Homo sapiens: one gene and its partners. The protein of the gene in region 1 interacts with the protein of each later gene in a pairwise test. Each region holds a gene or a part of one and is shown in the gene's direction. Other genes may lie near its edges. The genes, in order: CAMLG, OCIAD1, PKHD1 and GET3.

What was found.
Region 2: the proteins of CAMLG (region 1) and OCIAD1 interact in binary tests that used the Homo sapiens proteins (3 or more experiments, as listed by UniProt).
Region 3: the proteins of CAMLG (region 1) and PKHD1 interact in binary tests that used the Homo sapiens proteins (3 or more experiments, as listed by UniProt).
Region 4: the proteins of CAMLG (region 1) and GET3 interact in binary tests that used the Homo sapiens proteins (3 or more experiments, as listed by UniProt).

The regions. Positions count from the first base shown.
Region 1 is NC_000005.10:134,733,738-134,741,547, forward strand, and holds the start of CAMLG (guided entry of tail-anchored proteins factor CAMLG), read left to right. Parts: upstream 1-4,810; 5' UTR 4,811-4,883; coding exon 4,884-5,055; intron 5,056-7,325; coding exon 7,326-7,786; intron 7,787-7,810. UniProt on the Homo sapiens protein: Required for the post-translational delivery of tail-anchored (TA) proteins to the endoplasmic reticulum.
Region 2 is NC_000004.12:48,826,075-48,834,162, forward strand, and holds the start of OCIAD1 (OCIA domain-containing protein 1), read left to right. Parts: upstream 1-5,013; 5' UTR 5,014-5,027; coding exon of another isoform or gene 5,028-5,067; 5' UTR 5,068-5,175; exon of another isoform or gene 5,176-5,447; coding exon of another isoform or gene 5,448-5,457; intron 5,458-6,545; coding exon of another isoform or gene 6,546-6,550; coding exon 6,551-6,608; intron 6,609-7,326; coding exon 7,327-7,407; intron 7,408-8,088. UniProt on the Homo sapiens protein: Maintains stem cell potency. Increases STAT3 phosphorylation and controls ERK phosphorylation. May act as a scaffold, increasing STAT3 recruitment onto endosomes. Involved in integrin-mediated cancer cell adhesion and colony formation in ovarian cancer.
Region 3 is NC_000006.12:52,021,511-52,028,642, reverse strand, and holds part of PKHD1 (fibrocystin), read left to right. Parts: intron 1-291; coding exon 292-487; intron 488-746; coding exon 747-814; intron 815-2,461; coding exon 2,462-4,069; intron 4,070-5,698; coding exon 5,699-5,842; intron 5,843-7,132.
Region 4 is NC_000019.10:12,740,365-12,747,496, forward strand, and holds part of GET3 (ATPase GET3), read left to right. Parts: intron 1-5,012; coding exon 5,013-5,161; intron 5,162-5,244; coding exon 5,245-5,395; intron 5,396-6,832; coding exon 6,833-6,940; intron 6,941-7,030; coding exon 7,031-7,132.

The DNA.
Region 1 (7,810 bases):
GCAGTGAGCCCCGTTGGAGCCACTGCACTCCAGCCTGGGCAACAGAGGGAGACTCTGTCTCAAAGAATAAAAAAAAGCATGGGGACTGCCTGAGCAAGGGAGGCCAGAAACCTTAAATTGCCACTCTCCTAGAGTAGCAGAAATCCTCATCAGTGTCACCCTGGGGTAACATCGGAGAGTAACATTATCCAAGGAGCCAAATGATTTTGTCCCAAACCACGGCAACATCCACACATTTATATTAACTTTTTTTTTTTTTTTTGCGACGTAGTCTCCCTCTGTCACCCTGGCTGGAGTGCAATGGCATGATCTTGGCTCACTGCCACCTCCACCTCCTGAGTTCAAGCGATTCTCGTGCCTCAGTCTCCCAAGTAGCTGGGACTACAGGCGTGTGCCACCATGCCCGGCCTGTTTTGCAGTGTTTATAACATACTAAAAGTTAATATAGGCCCGGCGCGGTGGCTCACGCCTGTAATCTCAGCACTTTGGGAGGCCGAGGCAGGTGGATCACCTGAGGTCAGGAGTTGGAGACCAGCCTGGCCAACATGCGGAAACCCCATTTCTACTAAAATTACAAAAATTAGCTGGGCATGGTGGTGCGCGCCTGTAATCCCAGCTACTCAGGAGGCTGAGGCAGGAGAATAGCTTGAACCCAGGAGGTGGAGGTTGCACTGAGCCGAGAGATGGCACCACTGCACTCTAGCCTTGGCGACAGAGTAAATAAATAAATAAATACTGTAAAACAAAATATTCAGTACCATCTAAAATTACATTTATTTCATGAGGTTCATTACTTGGCTTTCAGTTTGTTATACTAAGCTCCATTCTCATTAAGGAGAGGACTATTGACATGTCTCCTATTGAAACTGTTAATTCACTCTGTTTCTTTTAAACTTTGAGTGTTTAAGGGTGTTTAACAACTATACTTGAGAAAATTATTGAAATAAAATTTCTGGCTGGGTCCAGGGGCTCACACCTGTAATCCCAGCACTTTGGGAGGCTGAGAAGATTGGATTGTTTGAGCCCAGGAATTTAAGACCAGCAACATAGAGACCCCATCTCTACAAAAAATTTTTTTTAAAAAATTATCTGGGCTCGGCCGGGGACGGTGGCTCATGCCTGTAATCCCAGCACTTTGGGAGGCCAAGGCGGGCGGATCACGAGGTCAGGAGATCGAGACCATCCTGGCTAACACGGTGAAACCCCGTCTCTACTAAAAATACAAAAAAAATTAGCCGGGTGTGGTGGCCGGCGCCTGTAGTCTCAGCTACTTGGGAGGCTGAGGCAGGAGAATGGTTTGAACCCAGGAGGCGGAGCTTGCAGTGAGCCAAGATTGCGCCACTGCACTCCAGCCTGGGCGACAGAGCAAGACTCCATCTCAAAAAAAAAAAAAATTATCTGGGCTCAATCCTGTAGCCTTAGCTACTCAGGAGGCAGAAGCAGGAGGATTGCTTGAGCCCAGGAGTTCAAGGCTGTAGGCTGCAGTGAGCTATGATTGTGCCCCTGCACTCCAGCCTAGGCCATAGAGTAAGACCCTGTGTTTATAAAAATAAAAATTTGACTCATTATGGAATTTAGAGGAAGTAATTTGCTAATTTCTGAAAATTGTTCTTGAATTTCTTTTAAGCAGTTTCATCAATTCATTCTTTTACTCTTTTTCTTTTGAGACAAGGTCTAGCTCTATCACCCAGGTGGTTGTGGAGTGATGCAATCATGGCTCATTGCAGCAAACTTCCTGCCTCGTTTTAAATTTTTTTAAATTTTTTGATTTTTTTTTTTTTCTAGAGACGAGGTCTCACTATGTTACCCAGGCTGGTCTTGAACTCCTAAGCTTAAGCAGTCCTCCCACCTTGGCCTCCCAAAGCGTTGGGATTACAGGTGTGAGCCACTGCGCCTGGACTCTTTTTTTTTGTTTTTCTGAGACAGAGTTTCACTCTGTCGCCCAGGCTAGAGTGCAGTGGTGCAATCTCAGCTCACTGCAACCTCTGCCTCCTGGGTTTGAGTGATTCTCCTGCCTCACCCTCCCGAGTAGCTGGGATTACAGGTGTGTGCCACCATGCCTGGCTAATTTTTGTATTTTTAGTGGAGATGGGTTTCATCATGTTGGCCAGGTTGGTTTCGAACACCTGACCTCAAGTGATCCACCCACCTCAGCCTCCCAAAGTGCTGGGATTAAAGGTGTGAGCCACCGCACCTGGCCTCCCGATCTCTTTTCTTTGTTTTTAAATAGAGAAGGGGGTCTCACTATGTTGCCCAGGTCAGTCTTGAGCTCCTTGCCACAAGTGATCCTCCTGCCTGGACCTCCCACATGCCAGCCCAGACATTTTTTATAATTCTGTTCAAGTTCAGTTATACGGCTTCCTCAGTTTCAAGGAGGAATGAAATATTACTTGGAAATAATTTGCTTGATGCTTATATCATTGAATATAACACTATAATTCTAATTTAGCTCCTCAAACCCTTTCTGGAACCGTCTTGATTGATCAGGGCTGTGCCTCATCAAATTCTGCACATTTGTTACTATTTGACAGTTATTTCCATTATTTTCAGTTGTGTGTAAAATTGTTTTAAGGAAGTCTAGGGCTCAGAGATCTATGTCTGTGCAGATATGCAGAAGAACTTCCTCTAATACTTTAAAATTATTAACTAGTGGATGTCCCTGGGATTTAACTTTCATCCAATCAAGGGTGAAAGTTCAGTCTGTATATTCTTTGAGCTCCTTATGTTGTTGAATCCAAACCGAAGTTTCTTTTGTTTTCACTTCTTTTTCAGTATTAATATAAATATAGTATTTTATTATCTTCTAAGTGGTATTTCACCCACTTCCTTATTTTGAGGGTGATTGTGTGGCAGGCTTAGTTGCAGGGGGCCCACCCAGTAAGCTGCTTCAAAACCCTCCTCAGCCTCAGGTGTGAACTGGCCATGCTCCCTGTTAGCAAGGGTTGATGGATTCAATTCCTTCATTCATCTAATCATTCACTTAGTAAGTCATTACTGAATGCCAAGGCTGCATTATGACTTTCAAGGGCCCTAAGCTCTTTTGCCTTTGTGGCTCCTTCCTGCCTGAAAACATACTTAAAATTATATTTTATGACTGTATTGCTATTAATGATGACTATAATCCAGACTGGATCCATTACAATATAGCAAATATATTATTTTTTTCTGAAAAAACTTTTTTGAGATGGGGTCTCACTGTGTCACCCAGTCTGGAGTGCAGTGGCCCGATCATTGCTCACTGCAGCTTCAACCTCCCCAGGATCAGGTGATCCTCCCACCTTAGCCTCCCAAGTAGCTGGGACCACAGGCACACGCCACCAAGCCCGACTAATTTTTGTATTTTTAGTACAGTCAGGGTTTTGCCACGTTGGCCAGACTGGTCTCGAATTCCTGGCCTCAAGTGATCCACCCATCTCAGCCCTCACAAAGTGCTGGAATTACAGGCATGAGCCACCGCGCCCAGTCATTTGTTCTGATTTTATTTTATTTATTTCTTTTATATATGTATTTTTGAGACGGAGTCTCCCTCTGTCGCCCAGGCTGGAGTGCAGTGGCATGATCTCGGCTCACTGCAATTTCTGCCTCCCAGGTTCAAGCGATTCTCCTGCCTCAGCCTCCCAAGTAGCTGGGATTACAGGTGCATGCCACCAGGTCAGGCTAATTTTTGTATTTTTAGTAGAGACGGGGTTTTGCCATATTGGCCAGGCTGGTCTCGAACTCCTGACCTCAGGTGATCCGCCTGCCTCGGCCTCCCAAAGTTAGGATTACAGACGTGAGCCACCGCTCCCGGCCTTTTTGTTTTTTTCTTTTCTTTTCCTTTTTTTTTTTTGAGACGGAGTCTCGTTCTGTCGCCCAGGCTGGAGCATCTTTAGCATGCGAGGTGGTCATGAACGACAAGGAGAAAAAACAAGGTGAAGGGGAATGGGGAGTGTTGGCAATTTAGATAGAATGTGCACGAAAGGTTTCAATGGGAAATTCTAATTTGAATAAAAACGCACAAAACGCGAGGAAAGCCTAGGAACACATCAGCCGTATACTTTGCCGTAGAGAAGTTAAGGATGAGGAACAGGCACCAAGAACAAATCCCAGCGTAAGGCTCCCTTTAAGTGCGGCTCCCAGGGTTACGTATTCCCATTGCCTACAGGCGAGGCCGCGGGTCTGTAAACAAGCGACTGCCGCTGCAACCTCCATTTTGCTTCCTGGCACCAAATCTAGGCTGACCTACTTACTGCCATCCCTTTCCCACTCCCGGTTTTCTTTTCTTTCTTTTTTTTTTTCTCGAGACAGAGTCTCGCTCTGTAGCCCAGGCTGGAGAACAGTGGCGCGATCTCGGCTCACTGCAACCTCCGCCTCCTGGGTCCAAGAGATTCTCCTGCCTCAGCCTCCCGAGTAGCTGGGATTACAGGCGCGCGCCACCCCGCCCGGCTAAGTTTTTGTATTTTTAGTAGAGACGGGTGGGGGGAGGGGGGAGGGGGTCACCATGTTGGCCAGGCTACTCTCGAAATCGTGACCTCGTGATCCGCCCGCCTCGGCCTTCCAAAGTGCTAGGATTACAGGCGTGAGCCACCACTCCCGGCCCTGGGTGCTGGTTTTCTTCACCTCCGAGTGAACAGCAGAGGGGGCTGTTGGGTGAGGGCCAGAAGAGTTGGGGAGGCACGAGGGCGTCCAGCGCTGCCCTCACTCAAGATGGCGGCCAGAGCCTCGCGCTTGGTCGCGTGGGGCGGTGCGTGAGTGCTTAGCTCACAGGCTCCGGGACCGCGCTCGGGGGCGGGTCTATAGTGGGAAGGGGACGCGCGCCCTGCGGCCCGGCCTCTAGTCATCGCCCTCGCAGCGGCGGCCAACATCACCGCCACTGCCACCCCTCCCAGACTGTGGACGGGAGGATGGAGTCGATGGCCGTCGCTACCGACGGCGGGGAGAGGCCGGGGGTCCCAGCGGGCTCAGGTCTGTCGGCTTCCCAGCGTCGGGCGGAGCTGCGTCGGAGAAAGCTGCTCATGAACTCGGAACAGCGCATCAACCGGATCATGGGCTTTCACAGGCCCGGGAGCGGCGCGGGTAAGAGCCTCGATTTCCCCTCAGTCTCCCGCCCATCACCTTGAATCTTCAGGGTCATTCTTCCCTCTCCCACCTCCACTCCTCTGACCTTTTTGACCAAGCCTTGCTCTTTGATTTCCTCTCTGTCCCGCCCCTTCGGTGATATCCCAAGTTCTCATCCCTGAACCCCAGGATGTTCCTAGTCGCTCCCCTCAATTTTCCCGGGGCCTCGCCGTGAGATTTTCCCCACCCTGCCTGCAGAGCTCTCACTCCCTCTTCCCAGTTACGTTGAACAGCCCCTTTTTTCCTTAGCCACTCCTCGCCTTTCTTGAAGGGCGCACGTTGTATCCCCAGACTGTCATGTCTACTGCTCCCCTTAGGAAGATGGCTTTCCTTCTTAAGGTTCCAAGTGCTTTTCCTTACAGTGCCTTCTCTAGCGTCTACCTTCTTTTGCCTTTTGCTGTGTAACTCCTGTCCGCCCACATCAGCCTGTCTTTACTGAACTGCCCGCTAGTTCATCCTACGTGTATCAGGGACTCTTGTGCTCATATCCTAGTGTTTGTGTTCAGTGCCGTCAACACTGTCACCTACGGGCCGGCTAGAAAAGGTGGGAAAAGTGAGAGTGAGCATTCTTCAGAGACCCAGCAAGTGCGAAGTGCACACCTGAGAGTTTCCTCTCCTCATGAGGGGATATTGTTGTGATTGATGTCTGGAGCTGCATTTCTAAGGAGAGCGCCTCCTTCCTCCCCCAAACACATGTCCAATGATTTTCTTTAAAAAAAATTTATTTCACGTGAGTATAATTGAGCAATTAGCGCGCCCTAGTGTTATCTAAGTTTCCAGTGTTTCCTTTAGTAATTGGCCTTTAGTCACTGGTCGCAAGCTCCTTATATCTTTGTGACTTTTGTTCTGTAAGGCTTTAGGTGTATAGCTCTGAACTTTTAGGCAGTTCAAATGAGAGGTAAGAAAACCATTTCAAATTCTTCTAGAACAATAGAAGAAACATTTTTCTATCGGGCTATTTATTCTTAAAGCATTATTTATGATCTTACCTGAGGTACTTTCTATATTTTGTTCTTTTGCTTTGAAAATTTTATGTCTTTAAAGGTTGTTTTATTTTTTGAGACAGGGTCTCCCTCTGTAGGCCAGGCTGGAGTGCAGTGGCATGATCATAGCTTACTGCAGCCTCAAACTCCTGGGCTTAAGCAATCCTGCTACCTCAGCCTCCGGAGTAGCTAGGACCACAGGTGTACACCACCATGCCTGGCTAATTTAAAAAAAAATTGTGTGTGTGGAGATGGGGGGGTCTCACTATGTTTCCTAAGCTGGTCTGGAACTTCTGGGCTCAAGTGATCCACCAGCCTTGGCTTCCAAAAGTGCTGGGCTTACAGGATTACAGGTGTGAGCCATTGTGCCTGGCCTTTTTTTTAAAACAAAAACAAAAACAAAACCCCAGAGTAGTGTCTTAAAACTGCTGAAGTGCCTACTAATGGCTGCCTGACTACATAAACAGTAGCTTTGGGATATGCCACACCCTATGCTCATAGGGCACTGGATTCAGAAATCTAATTTTAAAATATAGATTTTAAAAGGCTTTACTGATTTTATATTTTTAACCAAATAAGCTAAGGCAGGCAATGCAATCATACATCTGGGATATATTATCCATAAAAAGTTGGTCTTTTCAGCTTGCTCCATCTCTGAATATCTTTCCCAGTTTGTCTACTAATCTTATCTCCTACCCACAAAGTTTGGGTTATTTCCTCTGCAGAATATTCATTTTGGGTGATACATTTTGAGGGTGTAGAGGAAGAATCCAGCTTTTTTCTTTTTTTTGTTTTGAGATGGAGTCTCACTCTGTCGCCAGGCAGATGCAGATGGAGTGTAGTGGCGCAGTGTCTGCAACCTCCTCCCCCCGGGTTTCAAGTGATTCTCCTGCCTCAGCCAGAGTAGCTGGGACTATAGGCAGCTGGGACTACAGACACACGCCACCACACCCAGCTAATTTTTGTATTTTTAGTAGAGACGGGGTTTCACCATGTTGGCTAGGATGGTCTCAATCTCTTGACCTCATGATCCGCCCGCCTCAGCCTCCCAAAGTGTTGGGATTACAGGCGTGAGCCACGGCACCTGGCCGAAACCAGCTTTTCTTTAATGCAGAATCGGTATTTATTTATTTTGATGCAGAGGCTGCTGAGTTCTAGCTGCAACAGCATATTTTAAAACATAAACATGTAAGGTGTTTGCCAGTATGGAATAAATACATAAGGCTTTTACATTTCTTTTCTCAGAAGAAGAAAGTCAAACAAAATCAAAGCAGCAGGACAGTGATAAACTGAACTCCCTCAGCGTTCCTTCCGTTTCAAAGCGAGTAGTGCTGGGTGATTCAGTCAGTACAGGAACAACTGACCAGCAGGGTGGTGTGGCCGAGGTAAAGGGGACCCAACTGGGAGACAAATTGGACTCGTTCATTAAACCACCTGAGTGCAGTAGTGATGTCAACCTTGAGCTCCGGCAGCGGAACAGAGGGGACCTGACAGCGGACTCGGTCCAGAGGGGTTCCCGCCATGGCCTAGAGCAGTACCTTTCCAGATTCGAAGAAGCAATGAAGCTAAGGAAACAGCTGATTAGTGAAAAACCCAGTCAAGAGGATGGAAATACAACAGAAGAATTTGACTCTTTTCGAATATTTAGATTGGTGGGATGTGCTCTTCTTGCTCTTGGAGTCAGAGCTTTTGTTTGCAAATACTTGGTAAGAAAAGATCTGTAAATTATT
Region 2 (8,088 bases), on another chromosome or scaffold:
TGATCCGCCCATCTCAGCCTCCCGAAGTGCTGGGATTACAGGCATGAGCTACTGTGCTTGGCCTCCCTCCTATATTTTCTTTTTTTTTTAAATTATACTTTAAGTTCTAGGGTACATGTGAACAACGTGCAGGTTTGTTACATATGCTTACATGTGCCATGTTGGTGTGCTGCACCCATTAACTCATAATTTAGCATTAGGTATATCTCCTAATGCGATCCCTCCTCCCTCCCCACAACCCACAACAGGCCCCAGTGTGTGATGTTCCCCACCCTGTGTCCGAGTGTTCTCATTGTTCAATTCCCACCTATGAGTGAGAACATGCGGTGTTTGGTTTTCTGTCCTTGCGATAGTTTGCTGAGAATGATGGTTTCCAGCTTCATCCATGTCCCTACAAAGGACATGAACTCATTCTTTTTTATGGCTGCATAGTATTCCTGGAATACTATATTTTCAATTCTTCTCTTTAGTGGTTCTTTCCCTTTGCCAATTACAATTAAAAGCCTATGGAATTAAAAAACAAAAACATTGAGGTAATGAATATGCTAGTTACTCTGATTTGATTATTACACACTTACATATTTCAAAATATCATGTTGTACCCCATAAATATGTACAATTATTATGTCAATTAAAAATCATAAAAGCAAAAACCCAAAACAAAAAATAACCTTCATCCATTTTTATTTTTTCCTCCAGCTACCACTCTATCTTGCTTTCTCTAAACAGCTAAACTTCCAGAAAGAGTAATGTACACTTTTCCTCACATTATCTCCAATCACTCTTTTCTCAACCCATTGTAATCTAGATTTTAATAAAACTACACTTGCAAAAGTTATAAATAACCTTTTTATTGCTGCATGTAATGGATAGTTCTCCATCCTTACCAGCATTTGATATAATTGACCATTTCTTCCTTCTTAGAAGATTCTTTTCCTTTGGCTTCTATGACACTACATTTTGAATAATAAATATGTGTTAAACTAGATAGTCTGGTGAACTAATAAAACACAAGTTCTGCTCTAATGGAACATAAATAGAAATATGCTGAATAATAATTTATTGAATAATGATTGCTTGAATAATCGCTGAATAATTATCAATTATGGAAGTTCAAGCGTTCATTTGAAAATAAATCTTTTATTGACACTGAAATGAAGTAGAAGTTCACTACATTGATTTCATTTATATACATTAATGAGTATAAATTATCCCTTTATTATTAATTTTTTTAAGTGATGTCTAATAAGTGGAAATTTCTTATGGTACATTTCATTAGATCTTAACTCAATGGAGGTATCATGAAGACTGTTGATTTAATTTAATCCAGGTGGATCGATTTCTGGTGATCTCACCATTCCAGATTAGAACACATTAGTCTGAGTTGGCTAATAAATCCTACAGCCCATCTCTAGCAAATGTGTATCGACTTCCCGCAAGTCTTTGGATCTTGCCCAATTTATGTTTGAATTCTTTGATTGTTGCATTACCCAAATTACCAAAAGACTCAATAACCTCTAAATGCCAGCACAAATGCAAAGTGACAGTTTACTTGAATGTTTTAGAATCCTATATGTTCCCACAGAAGGAGCTCATAGTCTTTTATCAACAGAAACTCAATTTATTGATTAATTGCTGAGAAATTAGGGGGCAACAGAAAATAGACTTATCAATCTACCATGTGCTATTGCAGGCACGTGGCGTGGGACTGGCGGGTAGCTCCACCTGCAGCCCCGGCATGGGATCCACTAGGTGAAGCCAGCTGGGCTCCAGAGTTGGGTGGGGACTTGGAGAACTTTTATGTCTAGCTGGAGGATTGTGTATGCACCAATCAGCACTCTGTGTCTAGCTCGGGGTTTGTAGATGCACCAATCAGCACTCTGTATCTAGCTACTCTGGTGGGGACTTGGAGAACTTTTATGTCTCACTAGAGGATTGTAAATGCACCAATCAGCACTCTTTGTCTACCTAAAGGTTTGTAAATGCACCAATCAGTGCTCTGTGTCTGGCTAATCTAGTGGGGACTTGGAGAACTTTTATGTCTAGGGAAAGGTTTGTAAATGCACCAATCAGCACCCTATGTCTAGCTCAAGGTTTGTAAATGCACCAATCAGTGCTCTGTGTCTACCTAATCTAGTGGGGACTTGGAGAACTTTTGTGTCTAGCTAAAGGATTGTAAATGCACCAATCAGCACTCTGTGTCTAGCTCATGGATTGTAAATGCACCAATCAGCACCCTGTCAAAATTGACCAATCAGCTCTCTGTACAATGGACCAATCAACTCTCTGTACAATGGACCAATCAGCAGGATGTGTGTGGGGCCAGATAAGGGAATAAAAGCAGGCCTCTTGAGCCAGCAGCGGCAACCCACTCAGGTCCCCTTCCACACTGTGGAAGCTTTGTTCTTTTGCTCTTTGCAATAAATCTTGCTGCTGCTCACTCTTTGGGTCTGCACCACCTTTATGAGCTGTAACACTCACTGTGAAGGTCTGCAACTTCACTCCTGAGGCCAGTGAGACCATGAACCCACCTGGAGGGATTAACAACTCCAGACGGGAGGAATGAACAACTCCAGATGCACCGCCTTAAGAGCTGTAACACTCACTGCGAAGGTCTGCAGCTTCACTCCTGAAGCCAGCAAGACCACGAACCCACCAGAAGGAATAAACTCCGAGCATGTCCGAACATCAGAAGGAACAAAGTCTGGACACACCATCTTTAAGAACTGTAACGCTCACCGTGAGGGTCCGCAGCTTCATTCTTGAAGTCAGTGAGACCAAGAACCCACCAATTTAGGACACACTATGTGTTAGGCCTGGCTCAGTAAGTATAAAGAATATGATAAAACTGGATTCTGGAATCTTACAATCTAGTCAGGAAGCAAAGAAAAAGACTTTGCTTTAAAGTTGGTGCAGTGGCTCATGCCTATAACCCCAGCACTTCGGGAGGCCAAAGTGGGCAGATCACTTGAGGCCAGGAATTGGAGACCAGGCTGGTAAAGTAGTGAAACTCTGTCTCTTCTACAAATAAAAAAATTAGCTGGGCGTGGTGGTGCACACCTGTGGTCCCAGCTACTCAGGAGGCTGAGGCACAAGAATTGCTTGAATCTGGGAGGCGAAGGTTGCAGTGAGCCGAGATGGCACCACTGTACTACGGTCTAGACAATAGAGCAAGGCCCTGTCCTAAAAAAAAAAACAACAAAAAACTTTGCTTTAACATAAAGCTCACCACCTAGAATGTCTTCTAATTTTTTTATTTTTGTTTCTTCTAGAATGTCTTTTAATTTTCTTATTTTTGTTTTTTCTCCTATAAAAATGCATTCAACAAATTCATTTAAGAAATATTTGTTGGCTTCATATGATCATGTGCCAATCACTGATGCTAGGCAAATACGGCTCCTACTGTCATAGACCTTTTTAGTGAAGAGAGACAATACACAAACAAATCATTGTTTTAGACCATAACAAATACTATGAAAACAATAAGCAAGGTAACATGGAGAGTGACTGGGGTGCCATGTTAATTGGGTGGTCAAGGAATGCCTCTCTGATGTGGTGACATCAACTGAAGTCTCAGACAAAAAGCCACGTTGAACATCTGGAAGAACAGTGGTCTAGAAGAGGGAACAGCAATTGCACAAGCCCTGGGCCCAGAAGTAAATTAGCTTGTCCCAGGAACAAAATGAGTATTAGTTACTAATACTGATTATCTCAGGGATTTATTTGGTTCTATAAAGACTTACAAGCCAACATCTCTGTCCTAAAGGAGCTCTGTAACAGAGACAGACGTAAGTAAAAAAGATCACTATTCAGTGCAAAAGTACATTGCAGTGACAGCAGTATGGACAAGCTAAGGACTAAGAAGGAAGAGTGATTACTTCTCTGGGGTGTATTTCAGGGAAGGCATCACAAAGGTGGTGATGTAAAAGCAGAATTTTGAAATATCGTTAGAATTGACAAAGCAGGGAGTAGAGTTGTACTGGGGAAACAGTGCACAGAGAACACTGAGGGCAAAGACCTCCAGGCTGTTTCTTGTTAGTGAACCCTGAAATAGAAGAAAGTGACGCTCAAAAGGCACAGGCACCACCAGGCCATGATGGGCCTTATATTCGGTGCATGACTGGAGCTATCAAAAGACTCCAAGGAAGGAAACACAGCGTTGGATTCGTTTCACGTGACTGTCTCCCTTAAGTATGTCTTCGGGAGAATAAATGTTAAATGATAAAGTGGCAAAGGGGCTCAGAAAGAGATGAGAAACCTGAGAGGCTTTGAGGGGTTGACAAATAGTAGGACTGGATTTGCCCACTGTTTAGTCACTAATAACTTGCAGTACATGGCACTAATAAATACTTCAGGAAGGAATGTATGAAAATGAGTAAAATGCTGATTGGCTGGGTGTGGCAGCACCATGTCTGATGTGTAGAAGTCGTGAGCCCCCTCATTAATAGACAGTGATGTGTTGTTTTAATTCTAACAACCCTATATGTAATTCCACTTTTCAGGTGAGAAAAACCGTAGCCTCAGAGAGATCACGGTACCCTGCCAGAGGTTGTAGAACTTGTTGGAAACTTGGATCAAGAGGGTGTGACAAATAACCAGGTATGCATGCTTAAAAATTACTTTCTACTACTTAGCCTACAGGCTCAAAGAATGAAATTATCTCATAAAAGAGATAATTTATAAAGTCGCTCTCAAAAGAGGGACAACAGAGGGTTCCGGAACGTTCCCGCCAGCCGCCACGAGAAGACCAGAGAGGTGCATCACAACAGCCCAAAGTCAAGCCTACTCCCAACCCCCTTCCCCGCCATCCAGGGAAGGGGCGGGGCAGGGTTCTTGGTCCGCCGCTGTCGCCTGCGCAGTCGCAGTGCGGCTCGTGGCCGCAGCTGCCTGAAAGGGCAAAGGGACGAGTATACGCATGCGTCTATTCCTAGGCTGCTGGCTCTCAGACCCGCAGTGAGGTCTGACGTCATTTCCTGCCGTAAGTATACAGTGCCTCCGGGTCGCGGTCATTTTGAGCCCCTGTCTGGATGACTTCTTGCGGCTGTTCTACCCCTCCCCCTCCCCGCGGTACCTTGCACTTTTCTCCCTCCCTGCCCCCTCTCGAGTCCACCCTCCGGGCCTTCTGCCCCTGATCGCTTGGTTTTCCTTGCAGTCGCCTGCTGCTGTCGTCGGGAGGTGGGTGAGGTGACGCAAACAGCCCCGTTGTTGCCCTCCGCGTATCCCCTCACCACCTTTGCGGCCATCCACGACTTTCGCACCTTCCGCCATTTTCCTGCCTGTGAGGGTGGACAGATCGCGCTCGGGTCTCGGCCTCCTGAGTGCCGGTGACTGCGGGAGGCGACGGAGTGCTTCTGGGGGTGTGAGCTGGGGAAGTTCGTGGTCACGGATGCGTGTGGGGTTGCTGCTCAGTCTGTAACGGCAGGTGGGAGACGGACACTGGGTGGAGGATGGAGTGCGGTAATCAGCGGTTGTAGGCCGCTTAGGCTTTAATCCAGCGTTGTTTTGTGTAAAGAACTTAAAATGGTATTGTCTTAAGCGCCGTGTCAGCCCTGACAGTCTTCCTGGTGTTTCTAGGAAGGATGCCGTTATGGGAAATAAGAGGGTTTCATTTTTTCTCATACGGTTGTAGGGTAAAGGTAGTTTATTCAGCAGGCTCCATCCATCCATGAATTCAGCTGACCTTTTTTATTTCTTTTCTCTAATTAAGGGGTTGGCATGTAGTAGGCCTTCATGGCTTATTGACTGAATGAATTATGGAAGGGCTCAGTTGCTGTCCTCATTGTGTATGCCATTTCCTGTTTCCATGCAAATTGTTTTTAAAATGAGAATAATCATGATCCCACGTAAACGTTCTGTAAAATACGGTTACTTGATCTGTTGGTCTGAGTCCCAATATATGAGTTTTTAAAAAAAGAACCAAATAAAAAATGTATATTCTTGGAATTTTATGCATTTTTTTCTTATATTCTTGGGGTGGAAGGAAATTTGGAGATACAGAATTTGCTGTTAGTTTTACCTCACAGGGAGAAGGATATGTCGTCTTTGTTATTCCATAATTTTGGAGTGCTCCTTTGTGGGAGAGGTTGAATGTTTCTGATGATTATTTCATTTTTTAATATGGAAGCTCAGAAATGACTTGAAATTTTTTTTCTCTTCTATTTTGGGGAATTATCCTAATCATTGGGCATAGATTCGAGAAACGACCAAAACATAGGATGTGAAAGAACCCACTTCCAGGAGGAAAAAATATGTCTGTTATTTTATTGATATCTTGATAGTAAAAAAAATTATAAACTTATAAAACGCATATGCTTTTTCAATTAAGGGACTTAACCTGAATAGTGAGTTCCAAATTAATCAGTAGGTCTGTTACTTTTTCATCTAGCTATTTACATGTGGAGTACGTAAGATATAGTAGTGTTTAATAAATATTTGTTGATTGATTGCTGTGTAGACTAGTAGTTTTACTATATCATACGTCTTGATTTACTTTGACCTATCTAGTGATAGTTTCTAATACTTAATATGTAATGTTTTTGATACAGGAAAGATGAATGGGAGGGCTGATTTTCGAGAGCCGAATGCAGAGGTTCCAAGACCAATTCCCCGTAACTATCTATTAAGTATTTATAATTAGAAGCACTTCCTATGTAAAGGAATTTTCACTGCCTTGAGTAACAGTGGCAGGTGGGCTGGCTTCATGGGCATGTGCAGACAGCGCCCCATACTTGGTTTCATGTTCTAGTCTTGTTATCTTGAAATTCATAATCATTTGGATAAGGAGTCCCACGTTTTTATTTTGCACTGGGCCCAGCACATTAGGTAGCCAGTCCTGACTAGCAGATAGTAGCATTAATTCTATTTGAAGTCAAAGTTTGTTGAAAGTGTATAAGTGGCCTGGCTCGGTGGCTCATGCCTGTAATCCCAGCACTTTGGGAGGCTGAGATGGGTGGAACACCTGAGGTCAGGAGTTCGAGACTAGCCTGGCTAACATGGTGAAACCCCGTATCTACTAAAATACAAAAAATTAGCCTGGCGTGGTGATGGGTGCCTGTAATCCCAGCTACTCGGAAGGCTGAGGCAGGAGAATCGCTTGAACCCCGGGAGGTGGAGGTTGCAGTGAGCCGAGATCGCGCCATTGCACTCCAGCCTGGGCAACAAGAGTGAAACACTGTCTCAAAAAACAAAAAAAGTGCATAAGCCAGTTGTTTTATTATTTGAGTTTAAAAAATGGGTGCCTCTTGTTAATGTTTAGGCTAAGATAATTTTTCAGACCTAGTTTTATTATGGATAATTTAATGTTTTCTGATTTTCCCTGGTAAAAAGACATAGGGCCTGATTACATTCCAACAGAGGAAGAAAGGAGAGTCTTCGCAGAATGCAATGATGAAAGCTTCTGGTTCAGATGTGAGTTCAATTTTCTAATTAATATAATTTGATCCAAAATTTGTACCTGAAATTTTGACTTGAATTTGAACCTGAAATTATAATAACTCCGTATAGAACAAATTGGCAAACTTTTTGCATAGTGTGGTTGTTGTTAAAAGAGATTAAGGAGATAAAGGAATTGCACACATTTTAAAGTAATTATTTCCAGATTTTTAACAAAACCATGAGGTAATTTTGTTGATAATAGTAATAGTTAGCATTTACTGTGTGTACATAGATTATATAAAAACAACCCAATAAGGTTGATAACTATTATTACCCTCACTTTACAGGTGAAGGAATTGAGGTTTAGAGATGTTAAATGGCAACACTTAGTGTTACACAGGTGATAAATTACGATGTTTGGAGTTGAAAACAGGTCTGTCTGAAACAGATTTTACTCTTAATGCTTTTAACCATTATATAATAGCAGATTAGTTCCCATTTTATCATTGTGAAATGTTGTTATACTACCAGCTCTTGATTTCTGATTAAAGAAATATATATATATTTGTGTATATATATATATCAAGATTGTATTTTTTAAATACAGAGATTGTTGGAAGCAGTATACAAAATATACTCTCACTATTTAACAAAGAATTGGTATTGCTTTACTTGGAAACTGTAGTCCTTTCAGGTAAAAAGGAGGATGAATTT
Region 3 (7,132 bases), on another chromosome or scaffold:
CTGCTTGGGAGGCTGAGTTGGGAGGATTGCTTGAGCCCTGGAGGTTGAGGCTGCAGTGAGACAAGATTGCACCACAGCACTCCTGGGTGACAGAATGAGACCTGTCTCAAAAAAAAAAAAAAATAGTTGTTAGAAGTTTCTTGAAAAATTTAGGTTGGTATCGTAACTCTTAAGAGTATTATGCATAGGGGTGACTGTGAATTTAATCCAAAAAGACAGTTTTAGAATTGAATAGATGGTTGAGCCCACAAACCCCACATGTCAGAGGCTATTGGATTCTTCTCAACACAGGCGGTGAGACCCTGGTCATTGGAGTGGCGAGGCTGATGAACTATACGGATTTGGATGTGGAAGTCCACGTCCAGGATGCCTTGGCTCCGGTTCACACACAGTCGGCTTGGGGCCTGGAGGTGGCACTGCCCCCACTGCCAGCTGGTCTCCACAGAATTTCCGTCTCTATCAATGGGGTCAGCATTCACTCACAAGGGTGAGGTGACCACTTGCATTAATTTTGGATTTGTTTGATGGTCTAGCATTCAGCTAGGTAATTCTAATTTTGAGTTAGGTATTTTCTTTTTCCCTTGGAAGTTAGAGGTTAAAGACATGAACATCATAACATTGGAACAAATCTTAGAGAACTTACAGACAGTTTGCTCTTCTCCTCAAAATACATATGGCTCTTCTGGCTTACTCTTTCTTATCTCTCTCTGTCAGTTATTTCCTAAACATCTGCCTATCTTCTGTAGGGTTGATCTCCACATCCAGTACCTCACAGAAGTTTTCAGCATCGAGCCTTGCTGTGGGTCCCTGCTGGGTGAGTGGCTCTTATGTGACTGTTATCAATTATCCAGCAATTCTATTTGCTGGATATTCAGATTTTGTTTCTGGATTAATTTGCCAGTGAGGTCAGAGAGAGGGGAAACAGGAGAGAAACTTTCCTCGGGCTCCAGGAACTGAGGGGTGTTTTTAAAAGGGTGTTAAAACTTGGTGATTCATTTGCTCAGGAAATTAAGGAATTTTTATGACAAGGAGATGTGCCTGCTTTTCTTTTCTTTTTTTTTTCTTTTTCTTCTTCTCCTTCTTCTTCTTCTTCTTTTTTTTTTTTTTTTTGAGACGGAGTTTCGCTCTTGTTGCCCAGTCTGGAGTGCAATGGTGCTGACTTGGCTCACTGCAATGTCTGCCTCCCGGGTTCAAGTAATTATCCAGCCTCAGTCTCCTAAGTAGCTGGAATTACAGGTGCCCTCCATCATGCCTGGCTAATTTTTCTATTTTTAGTAGAGATGGGGTTTCACCATGTTGGCCAGGCTGGTCTTGAACTCCTTACCTCAGGTGATCTGCCCACCTCGGCCTCCTAAAGTGCTGGGATTACAGGCATGAGCCACCGTGCCCAGCCGAGATGTGCCTGCTTTTCTAATGAAAAGAGGATGAAACGTCTGATGGGTGACACTCTAGAGTGGATATGAGAAAAACAAGGGCAACATGTCCTGCATTCGCCATTTAGATGCTGTGCATGCAAGGAGGGGAGGATTGAATCTGCGGGTCTTCACTTTCCATGAGAGAGACAGATGAAAGACTCAGAAATAGAAACACACATGCTGATATGGGAGATGGAAGAACAAGACAAATAGACCAATCTCTAAAACTATTTTCAGAAAGAATGGAAAACAATCTAGTGGCATGTCAATAATAGTTGTGATCATGTGTAAGATAGCACATTATCCTTTTTGGGTATAGTAAAATCCTCTTAAAAGCCACGTTGTACAGTTTGGTTATGCTGTGGGTCATGTTGCTCCAATCCTGTCCTGAAGATGGGGTTTGATCTTTGGTGGCCTCTCTACTGGAGAGTAAGGCAAAGATTCTATGAAGGTAGCAGCAAATTCACCAGCAAGATTCAATGACTTTTAATGTCTCTCACGTATATGGAATATAGAATATATGGTACAATAAATAGAATATATTAGAATGTATAATATATGGAATATTGGAATATTATATAGAACAATATAAATGATAGAAGACTTCAATGAATTTGATTTTTCATTAGCATATAAGTTGAATGTATACAGGACAATGTACAAATAGTCTATATATAGCATACAGGATAATATTTCCAATAATATAATACATGATAAGAAGACTAAGAAATTTGATTTTTCATTAGTGTGTAAGTTGATTAAAGTGGTGGCTTCTGGGATATACAAAGGTACTTGAAAAGTTTGTGTTGAAGACGTCCTTCCTATATAACAATTTGTATTATTTTACTGTTATGTGAATTTACCACATCTGACTCCTGTCTAAATAATCACAAATTTAGCTTTGGTGGGGGTGAGAAAAAATAATTGAGGTTTCACTAACACATGCCCTACCTTCCACTTAATTGACCTAGGACTTCCACAGGTGCTATGAATTCTTAGTTCAGAATATCAGCTATAATATTTTGCTTTCCGTATTCATACTTTAGGAGGGACCATCCTCAGCATCTCAGGAATAGGCTTCAGCAGGGACCCAGCTTTGGTTTGGGTACTTGTGGGCAATCGGTCCTGTGACATTGTGAACTTAACGGAGGCGAGCATCTGGTGTGAAACCCTGCCAGCCCCCCAGATACCCGATGCGGGCGCTCCCACTGTTCCAGCTGCCGTGGAGGTCTGGGCTGGCAACAGGTTCTTCGCCCGTGGTCCTTCACCAAGCTTGGTGGGGAAAGGCTTCACCTTCATGTATGAAGCGGCAGCAACACCAGTAGTCACTGCCATGCAAGGAGAAATCACAAATAGCAGCCTGAGCCTGCATGTGGGAGGAAGTAACCTCTCCAACTCAGTCATCCTTCTGGGGAACCTGAACTGTGATGTTGAGACACAGTCCTTCCAGGGCAACGTGAGCCTGTCTGGATGCTCCATCCCTCTTCACAGTCTGGAGGCTGGCATCTATCCTCTCCAAGTACGTCAGAAGCAGATGGGATTTGCTAATATGTCTGTGGTGCTCCAGCAATTTGCAGTGATGCCTCGGATAATGGCCATCTTCCCATCGCAGGGTTCGGCATGTGGTGGGACCATACTTACTGTGAGGGGGTTGCTTCTTAACTCTAGAAGGAGGTCAGTTCGGGTTGACCTCTCGGGTCCTTTTACTTGTGTGATTTTGAGTTTGGGAGACCACACCATTCTCTGCCAGGTTAGCCTGGAGGGTGACCCCTTGCCTGGAGCTTCCTTCTCCCTGAACGTCACAGTCCTGGTCAATGGGCTAACCAGCGAGTGTCAGGGGAATTGCACTCTTTTCATAAGGGAAGAGGCAAGTCCTGTCATGGATGCCTTGTCCACAAACACCAGTGGGTCTCTGACCACTGTGCTGATTAGGGGTCAGAGGTTAGCCACCACAGCTGATGAGCCGATGGTATTTGTGGATGATCAACTTCCTTGCAATGTAACTTTTTTTAATGCAAGCCACGTTGTGTGCCAGACAAGAGACTTGGCCCCAGGACCCCACTACCTGTCAGTTTTTTATACAAGAAATGGGTATGCTTGTTCTGGTAATGTTTCCAGACACTTCTACATTATGCCCCAAGTGTTTCATTATTTTCCTAAGAATTTCAGCTTACATGGTGGAAGCCTCTTGACCATAGAGGGCACAGGCCTGAGAGGACAGAACACCACGTCAGTCTATATTGACCAGCAGACCTGCCTGACGGTGAACATCGGTGCTGAGCTCATCCGGTGCATTGTTCCCACAGGGAATGGCTCTGTTGCCCTGGAAATAGAGGTAGATGGACTTTGGTATCACATAGGAGTCATTGGTTATAACAAGGCCTTTACCCCAGAATTGATCTCTATTTCTCAGAGCGATGACATCTTAACCTTTGCAGTGGCCCAGATCTCAGGAGCTGCAAACATTGACATTTTTATAGGAATGTCACCCTGTGTGGGTGTCTCTGGTAACCACACCGTTCTTCAGTGCGTGGTCCCTTCCCTTCCGGCCGGGGAGTACCACGTCAGAGGCTATGACTGCATCAGAGGGTGGGCCTCATCTGCCCTGGTGTTCACCTCAAGAGTTATTATTACAGCAGTGACGGAGAACTTCGGTAAGTCAAGCAAATAAGACAGCACACTTTCTTTATGTAAATGAATTGGTAGCTCCTTTCACTTCTGGAAAGTAGAAAATTAACACAATCTGCCTGATGGAAGGAAAGAGAAGCCCACTGGCTTCTTACAATCCCAATTCCTTCCTGAGGCTTGTCTTTGTTATGCTCTGTTTATGAAGATTTTTTTTATTTTTATCAAGGAAACTGTGCATATTCTCTAAATGTTTGATTGTATTTTAATTTGATGCATTAACTGGATTTGTATTTTAAATTAAATAACACCATTTGTAAGAGCTCATAATTTGATCATTTAAGAACGTAAATGCCTTCACCTAGTTTTAGACCCTATCTGCCAATTTGCGTTGTTTAAAATTTATTAAGTATGATTAAATTTTTATCATTTTGTAATATTTCACAGGTGGACTCATATTTCAACAATAATAAGCCAAATGCACAGAACAATTAAATTGGTTGGACTGTTTTCTCCGTTTAGATATACCAAAAATTGCCTAGCCTTTCCCTCCAGTGAAGAAAAGCTTTCAATTTCTATTCACTTAAAGCCTTGTTGCACTTGAGATAGTTCAAATTTGGTTGTGATTTAGAAAGTAAGGAAAAAAACTATAGAAACAGAATCTTAGACTGTTGGAGTACTAACTAAGACATTTCTTAGAAAAAATTTGGTCTCAGCTTGGTGGAACACTGTGGGGACTAGGATTTGGCTCTAGTCTATCACTAATTTTGCTAATTTATGCTTGACTTTTCTGAGACTCAGCTTCCTTATTTGATAAAGGCACTACTCCCTAAGATTCCATGTTTTTTTATGATGGAAGAGCAGGGAAATAAGAAATGCATCTTAAACCAAAAGCATTATTTTTGAGTTAGTCAAGTGGCTAAGTACCACCTAGACCTGGTATGAAGGCAGTAGTGAGGGGAACTCTGTATCTCAGTGTAAACTAGAAATGTGGACTGGTTTTACTCATACAAATGTCCCAAAACATGTACAGTTATTGCATCACTATTAACAATAGCAAAAGAGGAGAAAAAATGGAAATTTCAATAAATAGGAAAATTGTCAAATAAATTGTAGCAGGGCCCTATAATGGAATTCTAAGTAGCTACTAAAATGAACTGGATCCATAGAGTTTTGAAAAAACATCTATGCTATACTTTGAAGCAAAAAAGCAAGTTCCAGAATAATATGGATAGAATAATGCTTTGAATCAGAAACATAGATGCTTAAAAATTCTGGAAGGAGCCATAAGAAACTCTATACCTGGGTACCTCCGGGGAGGGAGTCAGATGGTTGGGGGAATTTTTATTTTCATTTTATGGCTCTTTGAATAAAAAGTTTAAAAACTATAAATAAGCATTAATTTTCCATATAAAAATTGTTACATTAAAAAAAAACCTCTTTAACACAATAGGATATTGAATGTGATTGGAGTCAGACAAGGCCAGAGCCTAAGTGGAGAGGAAACTGAGGCCAGCAGCCACCTCAAGCCAGTTGTGCGGATTCTGAGGATGTGAAAAGAAGAATGGGTAGTGAGGAAGCAAATGTTTGAATTTTGAGTTGAGTAAAGAAGGGAGATTTGCCTGTATGATCAAGAACTTGTACCTTTGTCTTTAAAGGCTGCCTGGGTGGAAGGCTGGTGCATGTGTTTGGAGCGGGATTTTCTCCAGGGAATGTCTCAGCTGCTGTGTGTGGTGCTCCCTGCCGAGTCCTGGCTAATGCTACAGTGTCTGCCTTCAGCTGCTTGGTTCTGCCCCTGGATGGTGAGTAAAGATGCCACACACATATATTTTAAAGCATATATATGGAAATGATATTCTTTGGTTAATTCTATTTTTGTGATTAATGCTGTACTGACTACTAATTTCTCTATGTGTGCCTAGGAAAAGAATTTCTCTACTCCTCATCTAAAATGATAGTTAGAATCTGAGGCCACCTGTTAAAATGATTCATCATAACTTTTGTCATATTAATATGTCAATGTTAGATGAATATTGAAACACTTATCACCTGTGTTCTTAACTGCAGTCTTAGGATGACAGAGGAAGTAATTCTGAATTCTGAATATTAGTTTCAATGACAGCTATAGGAGTCATGGAGGAAACAAGCTCTTGGCTTTGTTCTGAGGTGAGGTTGCTGAAGACATCTGCTTATTGGAGGTACCAGTAAAGGGATGGAGATTTTCAAGCTGGATATCACTTGAAAATTAGCTTTGTGTGTTCAGTTTTCGGTTTCTTATTATAGGCAAAAGAGCCAACACTCATGTTGTCTTCTTGTTTTGCAATACTCACATAATTACTTATTTCTTATTCAGTAAAACACCACAATTGCTCACTACTTTAAGCTGCGTAGTGATCATATAAATTGTGGTATGAGAAGCCGTGTCTTTGTGGGGAAAGAGATGAGAGAGTAAGTTGCAAAGCTTGGGGATTCACAACACATGGTAATACCCCACTGAGCTTCAGGAAATAAAGTCAAAAGGAAGAAATTACTGTTATTACTACAGGACCTTACTACATTTGAGATAGCTCACATTTAGCCAGGTGATTACCTTATTTGCCTAATCATAAATCTTGTACCTGTGCACTTAACCGTTTACATACCTCCTTTCTGTGTAGTGTTTAAGTTTTATTCCTAATTTATTTGTCTGCAACTTGAATGTGGGCTAAAGATTTACAAAATGATAAAAGCACCACATCATCTGAGCTTGGATGAGAATTTAATGATGGATAATGCTATTGTGATGGAAATTTGTGCTGTGTTGTCTTATACAAAGAGGAGAAGGAGGGGAAGGAGGAGGGGGAAGAGGGAAGAGGAAGAAGAAGGGGAGGAGAAAAAAATTTTTGTTAAAATGCTAGAAATTGAGTTTCCTATTATCATCATGTATATAAACACATTATGGAAGAGAGATAGAGTCCACAATGGGAAATTTAAGATACAATAGAAGATTGAAGTTCAAAACATTGTCTGATTCACTGCTCTACCTCCTCTGCTAGGAACAGTGTTGCAGAGGGTATGTGCAAAATTAGTGCTTGGTGAGGAATAAATGAGAG
Region 4 (7,132 bases), on another chromosome or scaffold:
AGCAACACTCTGTCTCAAAAAAATAATAAAGGCCGGGCACGGTGGCTCACATCTGTAATCTCAGCACTTTGGGAGGCTGAGGCGGGCAGATCACAAGGTCAAGAGACTGAGACCATCTTGGCTAACACGGTGAAACCTCATCTCTACTAAAAATACAAAAAAATTAGCCAGGTATGGTGGCGGGCACCTGTAGTCCCAGCTACTCCGGAGGCTGAGGCAGGAGAATGGCGTGAACGCGGGAAGTGGACCTTGCAGTGAGCCGAGATCGCGCCACTGCTTTACAGCCTGAACAACGGAGCGAGACTCAACAAAAAATAATAAATAAAAATAAAATAAAATAAAGAGATGCTGCAGAGTGAGGATGCTGGCAGAGGACAGTCCTCAGGTGGGATGAGCTCCATCCAGCATACAGACCCAGAACTTGGGCGCTGCCAGGGTCAGGGACTGGGAGGGAAACAGGAGGAATTGGGGCACTTCCCGGGCAGAGATGAGGGTGTTGGCAGCCAATGGCTTCTCTTTCTCACCAAGGAACAGGCAAGGGTCTCAGCAGTGAATGGGATAGAAGTTTGAGGAGGGAGAAAATACCACATAAACACTTATTAAGGTAGCAGGGGGAACCAGAATTGTCTGGATCATCAAGTGCCCATTGGAGATTTGTGTTCAGAAGAGGGGAGCAAGGGCGGGCGTGGTGGCTCATGCCTGTAATCCCAGCACTTCGGGAGGCTGAGGCAGGTGGATCAGAAGGTCAGGAGTTAAAGACCAGCCTAGCCAAGATGGTGGAACTCCATCTCTACTAAAAATACAAAAATTAGCTGGGCATGGTGGCTCACGCCTGTAATCCCAGCACTCTGGGAGGCCGAGGTGGGCGGATCACAAAGTCAGGAGATTGAGACCAGCCTGGCTAACAGGGTGAAACCCCATCTCTACTAAAAATACAAAAAGTTAGCCGGGCGTGATGGCGGGTGCCTTTAATCCCAGTTATTCGGGAGGCTGAGGCAGGAGAATGGCGTGAACGCGGGAGGTGGAGCTTACAGTGAGCCTAGATCGCGCCACTGCACTCCAGCGTGGGTGACAGAGCAAGACTCCATCTCAAAAAAAAAAATACAAAAATAAGCCAGGCACGGTGGCTCACGCCTGTAATCCCAGCACTTTGGGAGGCTGAGGCGGGCAGATCACCTGAGGTCGGGAGTTCGAGACCAGCCTGACCAATATGGTGAAACCCCGTCTCTACTAAAAATACAAAAATTAGCCTTGCGTGGTGGCCGGCACCTGTAGTCCCAGTTACACGGGAGGCTGAGGCAGGAGAATTGCTTGAACCTGGGAGACGGAGGTTGCAGTGAGCCGAGATCATGCCACTGCACTCCAGCCTGGGATACAGAGCGACACTCCATCTCAAAAAAAAAAAATTAGTTGGGCCTGGTGGTGGGCGCCTGTAATCCCAGATACTCGGGAGGCTGAGGCAAAGAATTGCTTGAACCTGGGAGGCGGAGGTCACAGTGAGTCGAGATTGTGCCACTGTACTCCAACCTGGATGACAGAGCGAGACTCCGTCTCCAAAAGGGTGAGGAGCAAGATGGGAATACTCTTCAGGAGTGTTCGGCCCTCAAGTGCAGTGATACTAAAGAGCTAGAAAGCCATACCTATCATTTCAGTGCTTGCAGAGACTGAGACAAGAGGATCACGTGAGGTCAGGAGTTCAAGACCAGCCTGGGCAACAAAGGGAGACCCTTTCTCTACAAAAAACAAACAAAATTAGCTGGGCATGGTGGTGTGTGCCTATAGTCCCAGTAAGTTGGTAGGTTGAGGCAGGAGGATCATTTGAGCCTAAGAGTTTGAGGCTGCAATGAGCTATGTATGAGATGGTATCTTTTTTTTTTTTTTTTTTGAGACTGAGTTTCACTCTGTCACCCAGGCTGGAGTGCAGTGGTGTGATCTCAGCTCACTGCAACCTCTACCTCCTGAGTTTAAGCGATTCTCCTGCCTCAGCCTCCCAAGTAGCTGTGATTACAGGCGCCCGCCACCACATCCGGCTAATTTTTGTTTTGGGGGGGTTTTTTTTGTTTGTTTTGAGACGGAGTCTTATTCTGTCGCCCAGGATGGAGTGCAGTGGCGCAATCTCGGTTCACTGCAACCTCTTCCTCCCGATTTCAAGTGATTCTCCTGCCTCAGCCTCCCGAGTAGCTGGGACTCCAGGTGCATGCCACCATGCCCGGCTAATTTTTAGTATTTTTAGTAGAGACGGGGTTTCACCATGTTAACCAGGATGGTCTCGATCTCCTGACCTCGTGATCCACCCGCCTTGGCCTCCCAAAGTGCTGGGATTACAGGCGTGAGCCACCGCGCCTGGCCTGTATTTTTTTTTAGTAGAGACGGGGTTTCAACATGTTGGCCAGGCTGTTTTCAATCTCCTGACCTCAAATGATCTGCCTGGCTTGGCTTCCTAATACACTGGGATTACAAGTGTGAGCTACCGCGCCCGGCCAAGACGCTATCTCTAAAAGAAAGAAAAAAAAAGCTGGAAGTAACCAGAGTGGGGGATTTTGCCAACAGCAAGGGGAAAGGGAGTGTTTGCAGAGGGAACCTGTGGAGGCTGGGCTGGATAAGGGTGCCAGCCAAGAGGAACACTGACAGTTTACAGGGGCCAGGTGAGGGGATGAAGTAGTCCAAAGAAGCTTAAAATATATGAAGCATAAGAAGAGGGTGCAGTGATGAGTGGGCAAGCTCCCCAACAGGGAATGACCCCTAAGGCCAGCGAGTTGGGTACTTCCCCATGGGACCCATGAAGTTACCAAGAAGAGGTGACAGAGGAGGAAGATAAAGAGGGAGGCATTGGCCGGGCATGGTGGCTCATACCTGTAATCCCAGCATTTTGGGAGGCTGAGGTGGGTGGATCACCTGAGGTTGGGAGTTGAAAACCAGCCTGACCAACATAGAGAAGCCCCGTCTCTACTAAAAATACAAAATTAGCTGGGGTGGTGGCGCATGCCTGTAATCCCAGCTACTCAGGAAGCTGAGGCAGGAGAATCACTTGAACCCTGGAGGCGGAGGTTGCAGTGAGCCAAGATCACGCCATTGTCCAGCCTAGACAACAAGAGTGAAACTCCATCTCAGAAAAAAAAAAAATTACAAAAATTAGCCAGGCATGGCCAGGCGTGATGGCTCGTGCCTGTAATCCCAGCACTTTGGGAGGCCGAGGTGGGTGGATCACGAGGTCAGGAGATCGCCACCATCCTGGCTAACACAGTGAAACCCCGTCTCTACTAAAAATACAAAAAATTAGCCAGGTGTGGTGGCGGGCGCCTGTAGTCCCAGCTACTCACTGCACTCCAGCCTGGGTGACAGAGCGAGACTCCATCTCTTTTTTTTTTTTTTTTTTTTTTTTGAGATGGAGTCTCGCTCTGTCGCCCAGGCTGGAGTGCAGTGGCGTGATCTCAGCTCACTGCAGGCTCCGCCCCCTGGGGTTCATGCCATTCTCCTGCCTCAGCCTCCCAAGTAGCTGGGACTACAGGCACCCGCCACCTCGCCCGGCTAATTTTTTGTATTTTTAGTAGAGACGGGGTTTCACCGTGTTAGCCAGGATGGTCTCGATCTCCTAACCTCAGGTGATCTGCCTGCCTCGGCCTCCCAAAGTGCTGGGATTACAGGCGTGAGCCACCACGCCCGGCCAAGACTCCATCTCAAAAAAAAAAAAAAAAAAAAAAATTAGCCAGGCATGGTGGGGCATGCCTATAGTCTCAGCTACTCGGGAGGCTGAGGCAGGAGAATTGCTTGAACCCAGAAGGTGGAGGTTGTGATGAGCTGAGATCGCGCCACTGCACTCCAGCCTAGGCAACAAGATCAAAACTCCATCTCGGGAAAAAAAAAAAAAAAAGAGGGAGGCATTGAGTCTGAGACTGGCCAGGGACCCCAGCCATGGCCATCCCTTCATAGATTCTACATACATGTTTGTGTTTTGTTTTGTTGTTTGTTTTTTGAGACAGAGTCTCCCTCTGTCACCCAGGCTGGAGTGTAATGGCGTGATCTCGGCTCACTGTAACCTCTGCCTCCCGGGTTCAAGCGATTCCCCTGCCTCAACCTCCAGAGTAGCTGGGATTATAGGCACCCGCCACTATGCATGGCTAATTTTTGTATTTTTAGTAGAGACGGGGTTTCACCATGTTGGCCAGGCTGGCCTCAAGCTCCCGACCTCAGGTGATCTGCCCGCCTCCGCTTCCCAAAGGGCTGGAATTACAGGCATGAGGTACCGCGCCTGGCTGGATTCCCCATATGTGCTGACGACCTCTGTGCCAGGCACTGTTCATGCTAAGCGCTAAGGACACAGCAGTGAACTAGATGGTAAAACCCCTGCCCCTGAGGGGCAGACATTCCTGCTATGGAGACAGATGATAAACATGATAAGGGAATCATGAGGGATGTGAGGAAGGGCTAATTTTTTTTTCAGATAGGTCTTGCTATATTGCCCAGGCTGGTGTCCAACTCCTGGGCTCAAGCGATCCTCCCATCTCATTCTCCTGAGTACCTGGGACTACAGGCGTGAGCTATCCTGCCCAGCTCCTAAGGGCTAAACCTTAAGGAGAAAGGAAGGCAGGGCAGGGGTGTCGGTGGATCTGTGCTGTTACTTAGGGTGGTCAGGGAGTCTCTCAGTGGAGGGATGATGATCCGGAAGAGGTCATGGCCCAGTCATGGGAGTATCTGGGGTTGCAAGTGGCAGGTTGCAAGTGGGGAGTAGCAGTGTAAATGGCCCGCAGTGGGTTTCAGCTTCCCTTTGAGGGCCCTGGGCACAGCTTGCAATTTTCCCCTTGTTTTTGACCCTTTATGCAACCATACAAAACCCTAAGTACTACCTCAGGGTCCCCCCAGCCGTGACCTAATGAAATGCCTGTGGTCACAGCCCACCACAGGCTCCCTCTGGCCCTGTGCCCGGGTAGGAAGGCTCCCCCTGGCCCTGTGCCCAGGTGGGAAGGCTCCCCCAGCAGTAGCAGCAACCTCAGTCTCATCCCTTTGGCCCCCAGGAGATTGACCCCAGCCTGGGCGTGGCGGAGCTGCCTGACGAGTTCTTCGAGGAGGACAACATGCTGAGCATGGGCAAGAAGATGATGCAGGAGGCCATGAGCGCATTTCCCGGCATCGATGAGGCCATGAGCTATGCCGAGGTCATGAGGTCAGGCCCAGCCAGCAGGGGTGGGGGCTGCCTGGGGAAGGGGAAGAGCGGACACAGAGGGCCTGACCCCTGTCTCCCCTCAGGCTGGTGAAGGGCATGAACTTCTCGGTGGTGGTATTTGACACGGCACCCACGGGCCACACCCTGAGGCTGCTCAACTTCCCCACCATCGTGGAGCGGGGCCTGGGCCGGCTTATGCAGATCAAGAACCAGATCAGCCCTTTCATCTCACAGGCAGGCGGCGGGGGCCCCCACCTGCACCATCCAGGCAGCCGGGAGTGGGAGTAGGCCCGGGCCCCCAGACCCTCAAATGCGCACTAACAATTCCCTTTCCTTCCCACCCCTTCTCACTCTGGACTTCTCCCTGGAGGGGATGGGACGGAGCTGTCTTTCCTCCCCCACAGGCAGGACTCAGTGTCCCTGCCCCTGCCCGCTAAATACCCTAGACAGAGCCAGAAAGCACATTCCAGAACCAGGCAACCTGCCTTCAAACCCTCTACACTCACCATGTGACCCAACTGCTGTGTGACCTCAAGCAAATCACTTCACCTCTCTGGGCCTCACCTTCCTTGTCTTGCAAATGGAGATCATGAGAGTGCCCCATGGGTTATTATTATTATTATTCGAGACGGAGTCTCGCTCTGTCACCCAGGCTGGAGTGCAGTGGTGCGATCTTGGCTCATTGCAACCTCCACCTCGTGGGTTCAAGTGATTCTCGTGCCTCTACCTCCCAAGTAGCTGGGACTACAGACATGTACCACCATGCCCAGCTAATTTTTGTACTTTTTGTAGAGATAGGGTTTTGCCATGTTGCCCAGGCTGGTCTTGAACTCCTGGCCTCAAGCAGTACACCCACTTCGACCTCCCAGAGTGCTGGGATTACAGGCATGAGCCACTGTGCCCAGCCCCCATGGGTTATTATTACGATGACAACCCTAAAGCCCCCACAGTGCTGCACACCACCAGCACCACCCACCATGGTGTATGTGCACGTGTGGGTGTGTGCGTGTCCCCTGTGGGGACCTGTGCCTCAGGTGGTAACACTGAGCACTTACTGTGTGCCAGACACTATTCTCAGCACATTATATGCTTCAGCTCATCTGGTACAACAGATCTGGGAGGTAAAGTTTAGAGATGGGGAAACTGAGGCTCCAGGAGGGTCAAGCCCCTTAGCTATGGTTCCCTAAAAATGGCAAAGCTGAGGCCGGCCGCAGTGGCTCATGCCTGTAATCCTAGGACTTCGCAAGGCCGAGGCAGGTGGATTGCCTGAGGTCAGGAGTTCAAGACCAGCCTGGCCAAAATGGTGAAACCCCACCAGTACTAAAAATACAAAAATTAGCCGGGCATGGTGGTGCGCGCCTGTAATCCCAGCTACTCAAGAGGCTGAGGCAGGAGAATCGCTTGAACCCAGGAGGCGGCGGTTGCAGTGAGCCAAAATCACGCCATTGTACTCCAGCCTGGGCAACAGAGTGAGACTCCATTTCAAAAAAAAAAAAAAAAGAAAGAAAGAAATGGAAAAGCTAGTATTTGACCAACCCCAGGAATCTGCTTATGGGCCTGAGCCTTTAACCACTGGGAGGTATCAGGAGTCATCCCTCGGGTGTTTAGTGAACCCCCAACCCAGGAGGTCGCCGCAGGTAAGCTATGAGCCCTCCCACATCCCCCCTGCAGATGTGCAACATGCTGGGCCTGGGGGACATGAACGCAGACCAGCTGGCCTCCAAGCTGGAGGAGACGCTGCCCGTCATCCGCTCAGTCAGCGAACAGTTCAAGGACCCTGTGAGTGGTGGTCTGGCTGGCGGTGAGAGGCCCGGGGGCTGAGGACAGGGGCAGACCCCGCCCCTCACTGTCCTCTCTCGTGCCCTGTAGGAGCAGACAACTTTCATCTGCGTATGCATTGCTGAGTTCCTGTCCCTGTATGAGACAGAGAGGCTGATCCAGGAGCTGGCCAAGTGCAAGATTGACACACAC